Linked DNA regions of Homo sapiens. The protein of the gene in region 2 interacts with the protein of the main gene of each other region in a biochemical or structural test. Each region holds a gene or a part of one and is shown on either strand. Other genes may lie near its edges. The genes, in order: THRB, ROBO4 and RXRA.

What was found.
Region 1: the proteins of ROBO4 (region 2) and THRB form a complex in vitro, tested with the Homo sapiens proteins (one study listed by BioGRID).
Region 3: the proteins of ROBO4 (region 2) and RXRA form a complex in vitro, tested with the Homo sapiens proteins (one study listed by BioGRID).

The regions. Positions count from the first base shown.
Region 1 is NC_000003.12:24,116,550-24,120,865, reverse strand, and holds the end of THRB (thyroid hormone receptor beta), read left to right. Parts: 3' UTR 1-3,713; downstream 3,714-4,316.
Region 2 is NC_000011.10:124,894,862-124,902,298, forward strand, and holds the start of ROBO4 (roundabout homolog 4 isoform 1 precursor), read right to left. Parts: upstream 3,005-7,437; 5' UTR 2,935-3,004; coding exon 2,865-2,934; intron 2,401-2,864; coding exon 2,071-2,400; intron 1,810-2,070; coding exon 1,652-1,809; intron 1,458-1,651; coding exon 1,337-1,457; intron 1,052-1,336; coding exon 924-1,051; intron 825-923; coding exon 596-824; intron 333-595; coding exon 220-332; intron 1-219.
Region 3 is NC_000009.12:134,434,379-134,441,127, reverse strand, and holds the end of RXRA (retinoic acid receptor RXR-alpha), read right to left. Parts: intron 4,662-6,749; coding exon 4,514-4,661; 3' UTR 543-4,513; downstream 1-542. UniProt on the Homo sapiens protein: Receptor for retinoic acid that acts as a transcription factor.

The DNA.
Region 1 (4,316 bases), on a different chromosome or scaffold from region 2:
AAGAACATTGCTATGGAACTTGTTACCCAGAGAAAGGAAGTGAAAAGATTTACAATTATAAGCACGAAATTCATTGGCAGATTACCTGCTTTATCTACAGACAGATTGTTTTGGGGTTTGGTTTTGTCTAGGCAGCCTCTGGCCAGGCTCCTTAATTGCTTGCTCTGCTAATATTTCAGCTTCCTCTCTTGACTCCTTGAGGAACCAACCGCTCTTTGGAAGACAAACACTTAGCCACCTCTGTGCTCCAGGGTAACCCTGAGAAGCTCTGCTGTCTGGGGCAAGCTTTCTTTCCAAAGGGAATGAGAGGAAGGCAAGCAGGCAGGGTCCTGCAGCGTCAGGCCTTCTGGGGAAAGTTTCCTCATTTTGTTTGACAGGGTCCTCAGTACATCAGACACCCAGATTTGAATATAAGTTCAGAGCCTGATCTCAAGCTAAATCAGAATGCTTTGGGGACTAACCATGATCGAGAATTGGCCAAATAGTATGGCATATAAACAGCCATCCAGCCAGCCGCAAGTAAAGGAACGTTTGATCCTTGGCACCTTAAATGATTGATTGCCTTCAATAGGCAAACTGCTGGTCTGGAAATCTCGTTGAAGGCTGAATACTTCATGCGGAGTAGGACAAGCCTTAGCCCACCTTCAGGTTGAAAGGAAAGGCCATAGGACTCAAAAGATAATGACTCTGAAACTAAACTCCTTCCTTCTGAAGCTGACAGAGGTACTTAGTGCATCTCAAGACTCCATCTCATAAAACTCATTTGTGAGGGATTTGCTCTAGATTTTTCTAAACATTTTTTCATCTATTGTCCAGACTTGCAAATCCAGTGTGGACCTGATGGAGATACCCTTCACACCTGCGCTCCCACCCCCTCGGCAGGGAGACGTCTCAGTAGAGGAGAACACACCCATTATGCTGGGATTTGTATTTATAAATCACTTCCCTTTTAGGGATGAGCGGTGTGGGGCGTGTGTGCGTGTGAGTGTATGCGCGTGCGTGTGTGACCCTCAAGTGTACTTTGCTCAATTTAGACGTGCAGTATTTCCAGAAACAATGAAAAAAGTAAGATGTTTTCTTCTTTATGATTCTGCTCAAAACACCACGTGCCGCCTCAGAGCTTTTTCTAGAGCCTCGGTCCTCAATGACGCGCTTGACCTGTTGATGCCTCAGCCCAGCGAAGCCCCTCACCTGTGCCCCGGGCGACAGCTCTTCAGTGTGCAGTGCAGGCCTGGGGTGGACTGCCAGGCCTTCGCTCTGTGCCAGCAACGCCGTTCTTGTTGCTCCTCCATGAACAGGGGTACAAGCCCTGGCCCCTCCTCGACACTAAGCCCCCCACAGACTCAGCCTCCAAGGAACCGCTGAGCACCCTTGAAGCATGTCATTGTCAGTGATACCTTTTTATTCTATGGAACTCTAACCTATTCGTGTCATATTGACCTTTTGCTGCATGAGTCATAAATTATGAAATCAGTCTTACAGTTTTTGAAATGTAGCCAGCATTTGTAAGGCTAAACCTTTTTCATGAACTGAATTTAAGTGAATAACCAAGCCACAGTTCCTCCTCAAATGGAGAGTGATGATCGACATTTGAATCTCTTTGCCCTTTCCAACGGCTATGGCATCAGGTTCTAAAATAAGCTCGTAATTTTTCCTGTTATTTTAATAATATGGAAATATTAGCATAGTGTTTCTTTTGATAGTGATAGACTATAATCCATATTTAAATTTTATAGAGAAGAAATTTTATTGTACTGTGATGTAGATATTTATTATCCAGGTAAGGATTTGCCCGGTGTGTATTTTTTACAATTGAGACATTTTACTTTAATCTTTAAAAAAAATGCATTAAAAACACACTCAAAAAAAAAAAAAAAAAAAAAAAAAAAAAACCAGACTGGGGGAAAAAAGGTTTGGCCTTATCACAGAATTTTTACTGTGCTGTATAAATGTTTGCAAATGCGAAAAGTGTGCATTTATAGTGTGTTTCCACATTAATTAATGCCGCCTTCAAGAGCAATATTGTGCAGGTAAAACGCTGTTTGTGGCTTTCTGTTGCACAGTTAAAGCTGACCCACCCTATGCACAAGACAATCAAATATAAATCTGTCCTCCTCAGGATGCAGATAATACTCATGTAAATTATGGAGCACAATGTAAGACAAAAGGAGACACTTTACATATGTATTGTTGATACAGAAATTATCAGGGCATGAATGAGCTGATGTGACATTATGCCACTTCTTTCTTTTGGTTCTCCCTTATTAACTTGGCATTTTTAATTTGACCATAGAGCCAAATTAGTTCTCCATGCTTTCTTCGTAGAAAATCCTTTTTTTTCCCATAATGTTTTCATGCCCTGAGAATCAGAAAAATACTACAGAATAGAAAAAGATTTACAGTCATTGGAAGATTTGTGTTTTGCAAACAGTGTTAAGTGATATTGCTAGATGGTGATATTTTTTTCAGCCTAAAACTCTGTTGAAATCTGTGATCAAAATGTTTTAAACTATCCAAAAAAAATTTGTATATTTGGGAAAAATGGATTTTTACATAGCTTTTGTATGCAGATATAAAACTGTAATTATGAATATAGTGGGCGTAGATAAACTCATAAGCTTAAATTCTAAAAAAGAAAAAGCTTATAACAGATATATTTTCCTGTCTCTTTCTTTAAATATTATTATTTTCTACATAGGCAAAGAGTTGCCTGCTCTTCTCACTTCAGCTGCTGCCAAAAGACGGAACCACGGATGTAAGGACATTTATTTCATAAATAAACATCTACTAGAATAAGCAAATTTACTTGAGAAGAAACTATGGAGGGAGAGAAGAAACTAAGTAAAATGCTGATGGGGGGTTACCTCTTTGGAAGGGGCCACAAAGATGAAGGGAGGAGAGAGGTGAAGTTTTGCAGCTCAAGGACAACATTCATCTTCTCATCTCAAATTATTCAGGAATATTACTAATGGAATTATGTTAACATCAGCTGCCAACATATATCTCAATCTCTGTTGCCCTGAACACATGTTAATTGAGATTCTTTCTATGACAAGTAACAAAAAGCTAACTCAAACTGGCTTAAGCAGAAAGCTAATTATTGACTTTAATATCTGGGATCTAGGGTATTGCATACCAAAGCTTCAGGCATGGCTGGATCTGGGTGCACTTACTCAGTATTCTCAGGAAGCTCCTTTTTTTGTCATTCATGTAGACTTAACATTCACATGGCCTTTCACCTTACGGTGGCCTCCAATAGCTCCAGGATGAGCTTTACAGCTCCAAATATAGTGAAAGGAGAATTTCTTTTCTCCAACAATTCTAATGAAAATTCTGGCCTAATTCTCACTGGCCCAAGTTCAGTCATGTGCCCATTCCTGAGCCAATCACTGTGGTGAGGAAAACAGATGCATAACCAACCTTATCCTCAGGAATCCTGGAACTGGGTGAGGGGAAAGAGGGACAGTCAGCTTCATCTAAACTATGGACTGAGAGTTGAGGCAAGATGATTCCTGAAAGAAAATTCTAAGTCTTGCTGCTATAAGTGGAAGAGAATGGTGGGCAAGCAAAAGCAACCAGTGCCCACACCAAAGGTAAATCTAAAACAACATCCCATTTCAGTACAGCAAGCGGTTCTCCTTCACACAGAGGAAGCTCATCTCCAAGTTTTTATTTGGCCAGGACATGAACCAAATAAACACCTTCCAAAGAAAGTGTTTGATCGCATTCTTCCTGGTTCGTGAAAACACCAGTTCAGGTAAGATGGGGCAAGCATCATTATTTCCCTAGGCTAGATCAGTTCAGAGTACTATTTTCTGAGTTTTTCCACTCTATATTCAAATGACTAAGATTAACCTTTATATATTTATCTCTTGTCTACATTATGTACCTCCCAACTTCCTCCTAATGAACATATTTCCCTCCTCCAAGAAATTACTGGATTCATTTATTGTGGAGAGCTGGAACATATATATTCCAGCTAGGTACAATTCTTAACCCCTTTACACAGGCAAAGCCAGAAGCTGTTGTCATGTCACAAACCTGGAAAAGTCTAATAATCTATGAAGAGAAGCCAGAGGACAAAGTTGGTTTGCTTCTCCACCCTCAAGATGACAGCTCACTCTGGTTTTTATGTTTAGACACTCAGGGCACCATAGCTTTGTAAATAAGGGGAATTGTCATCAGGTTTATGTACACAAATTCTGACACATTAAATGGTGTCTAAACCAAAGCAAAACTTAGTAGAACTACTGAAATGCAGAATGTTACAGATACCATTTGAGCATGTATCTCAAGAGAATTCACTGACTACTTGA
Region 2 (7,437 bases):
ATAATACCCCAGGGTGGACTGTGAGGTAAAACGGGATCATGGAGGTCAAGTGCTTGGCAGGGTCTGGAAGCCAGTGGGTCCTTGCTCAGCAAAAGCAGGTTTCCTTTGCTTCTCTGCCCAGGTACCTTTCTCAGTGCCCAGAGCAAGGGTATGCAGAACTCCAGAGAAAAGAGATGTCCTGGCAGCAGTAGGAAGGGCTATGACAGCTAGTGGGGGTACCTGGTAGCCACGGATGATGCCATTGTGGTTTTCAGCAGGTGGTGGGACCCAGCTCACAAAGACAGTGCCATTGCCAGGCTTTAGAGTCACTTCCTGAGGTGGGGCACTGGGCACTGGAGGGGTGGAAGAGAGACTATGAGGGGCTCTGAGGGAGAGGACTCTAGGGAAAGGAGCTGGGCTGGGGGACACAGCGTCAGAACCCTACTGAAGAGACAAGAAGCCTCTTGAAGCTCTGCTGGCCTGGCCAGGGCAGAAGGGAGTCCCAGGGTAGGACCCATAATCTCCCCTCAAGACTGAAGCAGAACAGTCCAGGGGCCCCCAAATAAGAAGGAGCCAGAGGGGATATTGTTGGCTTCTGAAGGGATCAGGCCCTGACCTTTTTCCGGCAGCCTCAGGAGCAGCACGTTGCTGTCAGGGCCTCGAGCCCGGCCAGAGGATGGTCTCACTTTGAACTCGTAGTCTTGGCCCCAGTGGAGGCCTCCAAGCTCTGCGCTCTGCCAGCCGGCCAGCAGCTCCTCTGCCCACGGAGCTCCCTGGCCTCCCGGGGCAGTCTGGGTCCTGAACAAGGCCGTGTAAGATTGGGCAGGCGCAGCAGGGCCACTGACCTGGGAAGGAGTTTCGAGGAAGGGCGGGGGGTCAGAGAGCTCAGGAACGCCCTTTCTTGAGCTCTGGATCGGCTTTTACCCTTAGCACCTGGTCCTCACCTTCCAGCTGAGCCACACCGCCGGTCTAGGCTTGGGGCCCTCTGCAGGATCCGGGTTCAGCAGTGTCACATTTTCCAGCTGAATTCGCACAGCCAGAAGCTCCACAGGCTCCGTGTAGTCCTGGGGCTCTGTGGGGAGGATAGGGCTGGGCTGGGGCTTATAGGCCAGAGTGACAGAACTGAGGCGTGGAACATCCCTCAGCCAGGGAGGAACCCCAGGGAACCCAAACTCCCAGAGTCTCCAGGTCTTGAGCATTCCGATTTCTACTCTAGCAGGGGGGAACCTCCCGCTACGTGAGACCCCCAGCACTTTGACCCTGACCCCACATACCTTAACCCCAGCCCAAACCAGAATACACCACCCCAACTGGAGCCTGCAGCCTGGCTCTGATTGTAGCCCACCCCTGCCCTTACCCTGGATGGAAACCCGGGCTGCGCGGCTCTCCCTATGTCCTGCGCTGTTGGTGGCCACACACATGTAGGTCCCTTCGTCACTCTTCTCTGCTCTTGCCATCAGCAGGGACCCCCCGGACACCTGTCAGGGCCAGGTTCACTGTGAAGTCTCCTATGTGGGGAGGGGCTCTGAGCTGGGGGGAAGTTTGAGGCCCCCTGCTCTCCCCTCCTCAAATTCTACCGGAGGATGCGGGGCTGGACGGCAGGTCAGTCCATCAGGGTGTACCCAGGTCTGCCCAGGCCAGGATGAAGTGTGGGGGAGGGGGCCACACTTACTGTGTGCCTTCCGGGCTGGAGGGCCAGGGGTTTCCCATCTTTCCACCATGAGACTGTGGGCTCTGGGTGGCCCCAGGGCGGCCCACATTCCAGAGTAAACTGCTCACCCACCACAGCCACCATGTCCCGAGGCTGGATCTGGAAATCCTCCCGGAGGACTGTGGGGAGGATGGAAGGTGACACGGAGCAGGGCCCAGGCCTCTTCTCTCTCCCTTATCACTCTTGCCCCCTTCTGCTTTGCCCACCTTCCTGGCCTCCCATTTAGGGCCAGCCCCGCCCCAGCTTGCCCTCCCAAGCCTTCCAGCCCAGGCCTCTGCTCACAGGTATCCCACTGACCTCTCAGATGTTCCCTTGAACATTCAGCTCAGATGTCTCCACCCAGGTTTGCCCCACCCTGAAGCTCCCCTCCCAGGCCTCACCAGCCACAGACAGCCGAGCGCCTCTGCTGACTGCCGTGCCAAGCCGGTTGCTGGCCTCACATGTGTAGACACCCAGGTCTGTGGACAGGGCCTGGCCATCGTGGGCATGTCCCCGGGCAGGGGGCTGTAGCAGCAGAAGGGTCCCATCAGGCAGGAGGTGGTGTGGGTCTGGGGGCACCATGCTCAGGGGCTGCCCATTCAGCAACCAGCGGATGGTGGGAGGTGGCTGGCCTGAGGCTTGGCAGCTCATCCTGGCAGGGCCAGGGCCCTGGAACAGCTGGTCCTGGGGGTGGACTAGGATCTGGGGCGGGGAGTCCTGAGCCATGCCTCCTGGGAGGGAAAGGGAGCAGAGCCCAGTCTGATCACCAGCAACACCCCAAATTCCTGGCCCACCCCTCATCTGTCTTCTCTTGTGTGCGAGTTTGCCAGAAAACCTGTAATCTGAACTACTAAAGGTTGCCTCCCAAAGAACAAGCCAGCTAGGAGGAGAGAGGGCCAGCATGCACAGCATCCAGGCCAGGGCTTGCATAGCATGTTCGCTCTCTCTCTCTCTCTCTCTCTCTTACTTTCTCTCTTTCTTTCTTTCTCTCTCAGTCTCTCTTTCCTTCTTTCTCTCTCTGGTGTGTGCGCACATGCACAAACACACATACACTTACACACACTCATCATCATCATCCTCATCCTCATCTCTGGTCCCCCCACTGCAAAAGGGAAGCAGGCAGTCAGCAGGCCCCTTCTGCCCTGAGCAGGCCTTGGATGGAGGAGCATGGGCCAGGAGAGGGAGAGCAACTCACCCATGATGAGCAGGAGCAGCAGAGGCAGGGAACCCCTGCCCCCCAGGAGGCTGTCTCCTCCAGAGCCCATGGCTACTCTCAGCCCTATGTCCTTGTCCCGAGCACTTTGTCCTGCTGCTCTGAGCTCACAGTGAAGAGGGAAGGAGGGGCGGGGTGGGCCGGTGGTGGTTGTTTGTGACCGAGACTCTGCCCCAGGAGGGAAGCGGCTTTGAGGAAACCGATGCTTCCTGCCTGGCCCTCAGTGCCTTGGAGAACTGGGAGGAGACCAGAGGCGAGAAACTCTCTGACCTCGACCATTTAGCTATAACCCCCGACCCTAACTTCAGCGCTAAGCTTTATCTCATGATCTACTCGGGGATTTCTTACAGGGTATCCTTACACTAACCAAAACTCCGATCAGAGCCTTAATCCTCTATTTAAATCTTATCCCTGGATCCCAATCCTTATCCCTTTGACACCTGCTAGAGAAGAGTGAAAACCCCAGGAGTCTCAGGACACAGCAAGAAGCTGAAGACAGAGGGCAGTGGGGCTGCAGGCTGGGGAGGCTGAGTGAAGTGGAGCAGGGGTGGATTGTAACACCCTCATCCATTTCCCCAGTGCCAGATGGACCAGGAGGTGGCGTAGGGTGGGAGACAGGAAGGACTCAGCATCTGGGACAAGCTGGGAGATTACCACAGGGTGTGTCCATATTCAGCTCAGAGATGGATGAAATAAGCTTCTGTGGAGAACTTGGGCAAGTCAGTTTCCTTCTCTGTAAAATGGAAATAATAATAGTAGTTCCTACCTTGAGGGATAAAGTAATGATGAAACACATAAAGCATAAAACCACTGGCATCCAGTGCCTGACTCATTATGAGTGATCCGTAAAGCTGAGCCAACATTGTGTATTTCTTTTTAGGCCCATCCCATCACTGAAACTATTGGAGGATCCTCGGCAGGAGTATTTTTCAGGCCCTGGAAAGGTGGTTGGAGTAAAAGACCTTTTAAGAGTCTTTCCAGTCCCAAGAGCCTGTGTCCATATATGTAGCAGACAGGCCTTGCAGGTTTTGAGCCTACAATGTCAGCTCTTGCCCGCTGCCTCCTTTCCCCCACAACCTAGACAGAGGCCACACTCCCCTGTCAGATCCCAGCTCATGTTTACTGGCCTCTTCCTTCCAAATCTGGAATCTCAGCCATTTCCTGGAGCTGTTCCCGGAAGGCCAAGGCCAGGCTCTGGGGCTCAGCGGAAGAGTATCCAGCCTTTGTTCCCAATTGTTCCTGGCCAGCTTCTCTGCAGGGCCCCTAACCCAGCTGACGCCCTCCCTTCCTCCCCCTTCCCATCCTGGCTTCGGTGCCAGCCACAGACTAACAGCCTGCCAAGTAGAAGTCTCCTTCACTCCTCCTCTTTCCTCTCAAACTCAGACCAATACTGACAAAGACAGAACTGGAGCAAGGAAACACCATGGTCTCTACAAACTGGGGAGTTTGCAGAGGCTAAAGAATAGGCAGAGTGAAAGTCATGGAGTGGCAGAGCTGGAAGGATAGGAATTGGGGCCAGAGAACAGAATGTCACTACCCTTGGCACCTCTAATTCTGAAATCCCAAATTCTGTTCTCTGGCCCCAATTCCTACCCCAAATTCTGTGGGTGTATCCTTACACTAACCATAACTCCAATCAGAGCCTTAATCCTCTATTTAAATCTTATCCCTGGATCCCAATCCTTATCCCTTTACCACCTGCTAGAGAGGAATGAAAACCCCGGGAGTCTCAGGACACAGCAAGAAGCTGAGGACAGAGGGCAGTGGGGCTGCAGGCTGGAGAGGCTGAGTGAAGTGGAGCAGGGGTGGATTGTAACGCCCTGGTCCATTTCCCCAGGGGCAGATGGACCACTAGGTGGAGTAGGGTGGGAGACAAGAAGGACTCAGAGCGTCTGGGATAAGCTGGGAGATTCCCACAGGATGTGTCCATATTCAGCTCAGAGATGGATGAAATCAGCTTCTGTGGAGACCTTGGGCAAATCTGTAAAATGGAAATAGTAATAGTAGTTCTCTGTAAAATGGAAATAGTAATAGTAGTTCCTACCTTGAGGGATAAAGTAATGATGAAATACATAAAGCATAAAACCACTGGCATCCAGTGCCTGATGCATTATGAGTGATCCGTAAAGCTGAGCTAACGTGTATTTATTGTGGGGCAGGCAGAATGGAGTCGAGTTTATGGGGTCAAGGATCTGTGGGGCCAGAGTGATGAAGGGGAGATTCATGTGACACTGAAGTCAGCTGAGGATGAGACAGGAAAGGATGTGGTGGGATTGGAGGATTTACTGCACAGGAGGCCAATTTGGGATTTCCCAGGTACAAAGCCTCCAAGACTGTCTGACTCCCTGACTATCAGCTTATCAAGAATGTCACTGTCAGCAGTCTGCTTTTAGTCTCCTCTGCTTCTACATTGGTTTTGGGGACACTAATTAAGTGCTCGCTAATGTTTTAATGCCAACTGGATTTTACTCCAGTCTCCACAATCCAGAAAGACGCTAGGTTTCCCTCAGGGGAAAATAAGGCAAATCTCAAAGGAATTCCAATCCATCACTAGCCCCGTCCTCAGCAGGGTGAGAAAGGAGAGGTGAAACGGTCTGTGTGCACCGCAGGGACAGAGCCCCAGAGGCTCCTGCAGCCCGAGGAATGTCCCCTGCCCCACAGTCACATGCCCCGTGCCTGGAGATCACCTTCAGCAGAGCCTCACCCTACTCCCAGGTTTTGGAGAGCTAGGTGCTAACACCTGAAGGTGATTGGAGGGGCAGATTCCTCAGTTGTTCCTGCAGGACACTAGAACTTTTTCTCCAGGGCACTCAGAGTGACATGCGGTGGTGGCCGAGGGGACTTCCCAACAGTAGGGTATGTCTGGATGGCTCCCAGAGACTGCAGGGCTCATTTCCAGCAACCTGGTGCATCCGCATCCTCATTGTCTCATTTCCACAAACTAAGGAAGAGCCGACTGCATGAGTCATGGGGATGATGTGGCTTGGTGGGAGCCGCCCCAATTGCTATTTCAGAGAAGCTCTGTTCTGGGGCTCTGGTGATGTGCTGTCCTGGTGACCAGTTTAAGCAGTGCCTTCCTTCATCCCTAGTTCTGGTGTTTTGTGTTTTCTAACTCCCCCTTCGTTGCTTGTAAGAGGGAGAAGAGAGGGGAAGCACCAGGTGCCCTTCTGAGCAAGCCTCCAGAGGAAATTTCTCTTCAATGTCTGGCTCCTGGCTTCTTTGGCTTTCTGCTCTGTGATCTCTGAAGATGCAATCTGAGACTCCTGCTGGCCAAGCTGGTGGAGAAAAAGGGATAAACTCAGGTGGGATTTGGAGTCAGTTACACTGGGGTTGAGATCCTGCTTCCACTTCTTATTGGCAGAGAAATCTTGAGTAAGTCACATAACCTCTCTGAGTCCCACTGCCCTCATTTGTAAAATGTCTGCATGAGGTTTACAGACAATGGACATGAAAGTTCTCTGAAAACACTAGATATGTGTTAGTTGTCCTTTGAGTGTTCTGGGATCAGCATGCCTGACCAACACAGCCATAGCCAGTCCCAGCTACCCCTTGATACTCTTTTTGGATTTGAGACTCACACTTTTTGCCTTCTTGTTTTTTCCCCTTTTTTGCTTGAGTCTGCTTGGTCTCAATCTATAAATTCTCAAGTTTGTTCCAAGATGCCAACAGCTGGAGGGAAATTGAGTCAAGAGAGAAGACAGTAAAAACCTCCTCTTAGCTGGCTGGAAAACTCACCCTAAGGCCACTTCACTGGACAGCATCTATTCCCTAGTTTCTGGTCCCATCAACATCATGGGTGATTTTAGGTGCTTGGAATCTAAAATCACATCGAATACTCTCAACCCTACATTTTCTTAACTTTCTCGACACCAATGACTATGGATCACACCTAGCTTAAACATTGCCCAGTTGGAGATTTCAAGGGCTGCTGACATCAATATTTAACCATTTGCTCACATGTCCAGGAAGAAGGGGAGATCTGTTACTGTGCTTTGTGTTCACCCTGTCAATGCCCTCCAGTCAAAGACCATCAGGAACATACCTATTGTTGAACAAGTTGATTTACTTCTTGCAGCTTGAGAGAGTGCATGCCATGGAGAACTATGGAATGTCTAAGTAAGAGAGATGTTAGAAAGAACCTATTCTAGGATTTGGGCTTTGATTGGGTGATTTCGTGGAGGGTCCAGGGAAGTGAGGCTTCACTCAAAATTGGGTGCTGTTGGGAAGAAAGGACATGCAATGATTCTTTGCAGAGGAGTGTCTTTGTAGTATATCAAGTGGGTCTTTTTCTTGAATATGTAGTATATCAAGTGGTTCTTTTTCTATTATAAACAGTGCTGCTCTGAATCTCTATTTTATATATCCCCTAGTATAACCAGTTAAGAGTTTCTCTAGAAAATAAACCTAGGAGTAGAATACCTAGGTCTTGAGATGTACAAATATTCCACTTTTGATGAAATTAGCAGATGTTTCCCGAGTCAATTGTACCAATGTCCTTGAGCCACGTCCTCAGAGCAGTTGGTGGACTTCTTAATTTTTGCGACTTTACTAGAAG
Region 3 (6,749 bases), on a different chromosome or scaffold from region 2:
GTCTGGTGCCTCTCGGGGAGGGTGCCTGGCTGGACACAGGTGCATGAGAGGGCTCCGGGCACGAAGACCAAACCAGGCCGGGAGCAGCCCAGCCCCAGACAGCATGGAGACAGAGGGCGTTTATCACAGGAGACAATGCAGATGGGGCATCATTAACTTGTTGTTATTGGGGCAGCTGGGTGACATCGTGTGTTCCTTGGCCCTCTGGGTGCACCTCCTGCCCATCTGGGCCAGCGTGGCTGCAGAGGCGTGGATGCTTAGGCAGCCTGGGGAGGGACAGGTGGGAACACTCGTGCTCCGCAGGCGCCCACAGGCCCAGTGCCCACGGCTGCTGAGAGGTGCCCTCACGGAGGCCCCAGCCCCCTGCCCCTTGGAGGAGCAGCAGAGCCCAGTGGACAGGGAGAGAACTCTCAAGAGTATGGCCCACAGAGGATGCCAGCCTCGCCGCACAGGACCGGCAGGTAGGGTGGACAGGAGGGTGGGCTGGTGGGGGCTGATCGCGGGCCCTCCCGCTCCAAACAAAAAAGTCCCCACACGGAACAAACGAACTGAATGGCGATGTATTTTAAACGCTCATATTTTGTTTCTCCTCTCACACTTCTCCCTTTGCGTGTTCCTTTTCCACAATTCTAATGCTACTGTCCATCAAACCCTGGCACCTGAGGCCACGATGTTTCAGAGACAATCGTACGGAGAAGCCACTTCACAGTCAGTCACAGGAAGGCCAGAGCCGGCAACAGGACACAACAGAGCAAGGCTTTAAAAATTACTCGAAAGGGAAGAAAACCCTTGAAAGCCTCAGGCCCACCCTCCTGCCCCGAGGGAAGACACCCCCATTGCGGCGGTTTCCTCCCAAGCCTCGCCGCCGTCACAGGAGCCCTCTCCTCTGCCATCGTCTGTCCTGGCGTTTCTCGGACGAAGCTTTCACCTCAATCTCTAGAAGCAGAAACGAAACAGTCCCAGCCCTCCCCCCGCCATATCCAAGTATACATGAGGGATAAAATTACATTTGTACAAAAATAGATTTTTTTTTTTTACCTTTCCAGATGCTTTAGACATTTTCTCTTATCTTTACTCTCTTTATGGATCTGTCATCCTCTCTAAAGTATTAGCTATGCGTCCCAGCTAAGGCATTGCTAAGGATTGGGAACGGCTAAAGCTGTCTGCTCCAAAGCATCTTAAAATAGATGCATCTCCTGCCTTGAGATATTCATTCGAACCCGGATTTCACCAAAGGAGGGTCCTTATGTACTTGCTTACACGAAGCAAATTTATAGGAAAACAGGGGAAACGTCTTGATTAAAAATAAACACAAAACACTGGTAACCGCTCCGCCTTTCCTGGGTGGCGCTGGTGTGCGGCTCTCTCCACACGCGTCTCTCTGTACAGCACATACATGTTTACACCACACACCTGCGTGGACGAGCACCAGATCACGCACCCCAGCTCCACGACAGGGACACCAGCCGACTACCCACAGGCTGCACATTCCGGCAGGGCCCTCCTGGGTGCCCCACGGGGAGGGGCTCGGGGTCATCTCCAGCACTGCCACCAGGCCGCCAGCCCAGAATTCTTGGGAAACACCGTGCTCGGAAAACCGAAGGTCAGGGCTGTCCTTCCCAGAGGCCGTGTGCTTCCAGGGTGCGGAGGGCCGGCGGCTGACACAGGCCCCAGGGTGGAAGGTCCTGGCAGGCCAGCTTCCAAGCATGCCCGACGCAGCCTAGGGGAGCCCGGCTCTGTGGCATCTTCACTCCTGAGCCTCAGGAGCCCCATCTGAACGGCAAAGCCGGGAGGTGACCAGCTGAGGAGCGTGCCTGAAGGTGCCGGGGTGCCCTGGGTCCCCAGGAAGCAGCCACTGGGAAGTGGGGGCCCTGCGGGGAAGCCGCTTCATCCAGCCGGGCCAAGGCGGGGACAGGCACAGGTGGCTAATGAGCTGATGTTAGTGCTATCTTTAGAAAATTAAAGATTGTCCCACCAAAATAATAATAATTACAAAAAATCACCTTAATTGAACTGGATTGGTAATACTACTACAGGTCTGGTTAAATAGAAATTCTACCTCTCTACTCAGTGATGAGCCGCACTCCCCACACATCACCTTTTCAAACCAACAGCACTGTACAACTACAAGGCCGATGAGAAAGGGACGGGAAGGCTGCGGGAAGTGCCCGGGACACGTAGAGCGGTGGGTAAGGCTGCTGTGGCCAGGGAGGCCAGGTTCTGCTTTCAGGGGTTGGCGGCCGGGGGGCTTCAGTGCTTTACAGCCAGCCAGCCAGCCAGCCAGCGCCGGAAACGACAAAGTTCCCAAGAAGCAGCCGACCCCCCGCAACGGAGGCCCCGTCCCTGGGCTTTTTCCTCTGGAGCCGCGGGCATTCCCAAGGGTCCGGGCACGGATGGGTGGGCGCTGGCTGCAGAAGGCACCAGGTGTTGGCGTTGGGTCTTTTGCACTCCCACCGCTGGGGCCCCAAGAGTACCTGCACCCTCCTGCCATTTCCACCACACCCGCCAGGGGCAGCTGGGGCTTCCTGGCAGTGCCTGGGAGGGGCCCAGCTGGCCGGGGACCTGGTACAGGTATGAGGCTCAACACTCTGCCTCAGGACGGTGGATCGGGCAGGGGGCCACCTCTAGGGATCCACAACGCTGAAAGGCAGGGGTGGAGGGCGGCGGGGAGGAGAGGCTTCTGGAATCTCTGACAGCCTGTCTCGGGCACAGACTCAGCTGCAGGCTCCACTCGGGTGCCTAAGCTCAGCTCTGGCTGGGAGCTCCAGGAAGGCAAAGAATGGACACTTTCTTCCCCACCAAGGCTGGAAAGCTGCCTCTCCAAGCCACTGCCTCCCGGTCCAACCTGTAGGCAGCTCCCCTCACCACTGAGGAAGCCCCTGCTCCAGGTGGGGAAAGACTATGGAGAAGGCGTCCACCCCCCCGCATCATTCCTAGACTGCGGCTGGGAAGACAAGACCCCCTCCGGTATCCCCCCCATCCACCCTCTGTTCAGGCACCTGCCACTGACAAAGGCTGGGTCCACGGGACTGAGGCGTGAACGGGAAAAGTACTCAGGCCAAAGGGAGGGCCTTCCAGTGCAAAAGAGGCGAGTTCAACCTGAGAGGGCCCCGCACCACCGGAGCCCGGGGGCAGAGCCTGCGGGAGGAGCGCCAGGCCGCACTGGGCTGAGCCAGGGAGGCCCCAAGCCCCGCCCCCACCCCACCTTCAACCAGAGCAGGCGTTCAGTGAGGCTCCCAAGTAAGGCTCTGGGTGAACAACGCTGTCCGTGGACAATACCAGGCTGGGTGGTCCCACCAGGGCCTGCGTGTGGCCCAGGCCCGAGGGCGCTGCGACTCCGGGTTCTCAGATTCCAAGAGTCTTTTAGACACAACTGGCAGCCAGAGAGAAGGCCTGAGCAGGGGTCCCACCAATGCCCCGGCAGAGCCACTCCAGGCCGCGGAGCATCTGCCCCACCCACGAGGCTCCCAGTTCCTGAGCCCCTCTCTCTCCAGGCCACCTGCCCCCTCTGAGGGAAACCAACAGGCCACCCTCCTCCCCTCCCATCCCCGCGGGCCTCACAGATGGCTGCAGGTCCGCAGAGCCCTGTGCCTCCAGCAAGGCCAGTGAGGTGGTGATGCCCCACCCTGCCCGAGCCAGGGCCAGCCCTGCAGGAAACAAGGACAAGCCTCAGCCCACCCCGCAGAGCAAGGAGAAGACTCAGGCTGGGGAGGGGCCGGGGCACTCTGGTCTGAACGGGGAGTCGGGAGTCTGAAACCAGAACACCAAGGCAGAGAGAAAACAGGGGGGTGAGTGACCCGCCCCTGCAGCCTGGAGGTGGCCCCGAAACCTTGCACAGAGGGCAGCTCATGTTCTCATTGGCTCGAGGGCAAAACTGTGAGTTATCTTTGGAAAAAGGGGCTACCTTCCCCCTCACTCAGAGCACAGGGCAGCTTGCTTGCCCCACGAGTCCCCTCTCATCCCCGAGGCGGCTGAGGTCTTTGCTGATGACACACCAGCTTGCGCCCCCAGCTGTCCCCTCCTGATTAGGGGGAAGCTGTCACGGGCTGGCTGGGCACCAGTATTCAGAGCAGATGAAGATGTCACTCCAGACAGGAGGGCCACACAGGAATTCTGAAAACCAGCATCGATAAACAGCAACGGAAACAAAAGCCCCGTTCCCAACTCCTGCAGCTCCAGGGCTGGGGCCCGAAGACCCTGTAGTCGCCCAAGCCCCGTGGGGTGTGGCAGGGTGTCCTGAGAGCCCGGTGGGGAGGCGCCTGGCTGGGCTCACGCTAGTTCTTGCCACGAAGGCTGCTGCCTCAGGAAAGCCACTGCCCTGGGCCACAGACAAGTAGTAACAGAAATAAGGAGGGTGACAACACATCTCTTAGGCAGAGCAGTGACAGGCTGTGCCCCAAAGTCCAAACAGGCCAGGCAGAGAAGGGCAGGGACAGGGCTCAGGCTGAGAAGAACAGCTGGCGTCCAGGCAGGGTGGCCAGAACGGGTGGGCACAAAGGATGGGCCCGCAGGCCTAAGTCATTTGGTGCGGCGCCTCCAGCATCTCCATAAGGAAGGTGTCAATGGGTGTGTCCCCGATGAGCTTGAAGAAGAAGAGATGTTCCAGGCATTTGAGCCCGATGGAGCGCAGAGCCGGCAGGCGGAGCAAGAGCTTAGCGAACCTGCAGGGAACAGGTCTGGTGAGGGCCGGGCAAGGGGCATGGGCAGTTCTGCCCTGGCACTGGAGGCCTCCCTGGGGATGGGGCTGTGTCTGATACCCCAACCCCTCTGAGGCTGGTCTGTAGCCCTGAATCTGCCTATGCCAAGCCTCCAGAAGGAAGGAGGGGAGGCTAGAAGGAAACAGAGGCAGTGGCAACCCAGAGCCAGGACAGAGTGAAGGGAGATCCCTGGGTCTGAGGACGGAGATGAAGGGCCAGGGGCCAGACAGCAGCTGGCTAGGGCAGACTGAATAGCTCTTTGTGAAGAAGTTAAAAATTGCAGGCAGTTGGGCATGATGGCTCACACTTGTAATCTCAGCACTTTGAGAGGCCGAGGTGGGAGGATGGCTTGAGGCCAGGAGTTCGAGACCAGCCTGGGCAACGCAGTGAGACCCTGTCTCTACAAAAGAAAAAGAGAAAAACAGTAGCAAGGCGTGGTGGTGCATGCCTGCAGGGAGGACCGCTTGAGCCCAGGAGGTTGAGGCTGCAATGAGCTACGATCGCAGCACTGCACTCCAGCCTGGGCGACACAGCCAGACTGTCTCTCAAAAAATGAAAAACTGTGGGCCATGACAGCCGGGAGCGGGTGTGAGTATCAGTAATGCATCTGGCTGCAGCAGCCATCACAGCAAGAGACTGCGGGGCTTGTAAGGGAAAGGGCTGCTGAGCACACTGGTGAGTCGCAGGGAACAGGCCCGGCACATGGTGGGCAACCAAGAAGTCAAAGAGCATCAGGCGGGGGAGGGGGAGTCAGGCTGCACCCCCACTGCAGGTGGAGCCAGGCCTGACTTGGGAGCTGTGTAACGGTGCAAGACCCTTTCCATAAAGCATCAGCACCCCATGAGTGCCTCCCACGGCACCTTGTGCAGGGCTGTGGGCCCCAGACCAGGGCCACCCCTTCCTCAGAAATAGCTCTGCTGGCATTGGGCACAGCATGGTCAGAGAAGGCTGGCCGGGGAGGGAGGGAGCACGGGTTGGTCCTCAGGGCCTGGCCCATCCCTGGGGAGTTTCCTGGGGCAGGGACCAGTGGGGGGGCGGGAGGGAGGGGGGAAGTCTGGGGCTCTGGGAAGAGGGATAGCAGGGCCAGGCATGAGGGCAGCAGCTGCCGCTGAGGACAGGGTGCTATGGGGACGGAACCAGGTGTCCCTTCCGGCTGGCCGTGTCTGCCCAGGGCCCCTGTGCACGGCCTGAGTCTCTCCACACGGCCCCTCCAGGGGCTGCAGGACCTCATTAATTATTAACGAAGTCTTTCTTTCAGGGAAAAGCTCTGTGGTTGGCTGCCTCACAGGCCTTGTTTTAAAGGCAAAAACAGCGCAGAGGCTGGAGTTGGGCCAGAGAACAAGCTGTTTTCTGCTGAGCTGGCGAGATGGGCCAGGGCAGAAAGCCAGGAAAAACAAGCTGCCTGCCACCCCCTCCTGTCCTCGTCCTCCGGGAAGTTTCACTTTAAACCAAGCCAGATGAGGGCTGGGCAGGCAGCGGGGACACGGTTAACTGTGTATGTGCTGGTGGCGGGAAGGCCTGGGTGTCCTATGAGGTCTGCTGGGCCCCACCTCCCCCGACCCCCTCCCCGCCCCACAGTCTGAGGATCAAGAGGCCAGGAGATGCCCCTTTAGAGAGAAGAGGCAGAATCTGGAGCGCTGACTTTGAATCCCAGGCAGGGATCCACAAACGTTTCTCTTCCTGGACACCTACTGTGCACCCAGCACTGTGGACTCAGAAATGAGGGAGCCCCAGCCCTTCCAGGGCCCACAGCCGGGCAGGGGGGAAACATGAGCGCTACGCTCAGGCCGTGACCGCCTATTCCGTACACACTTGTAGAGAGTGTTTAGTATGTGTGGGCATCTGGCCATCCATTCTACACATGCTTGTGAAGTACCTACTATGTGCTGGTGTCGCCTGGCCTCTGGTGGTTCTGCTTGGTAGGGGAGCGCAGTGGGGGGTGAAGCACAGCCTTCATCTATCTACTGAACAAAGAGAAGCACCTACTATGCGCCAGGTGCAAGGTAATCCTTCCAGTGGGGATACGACGTGGGCCTGTGGGGTGTGCCCGCC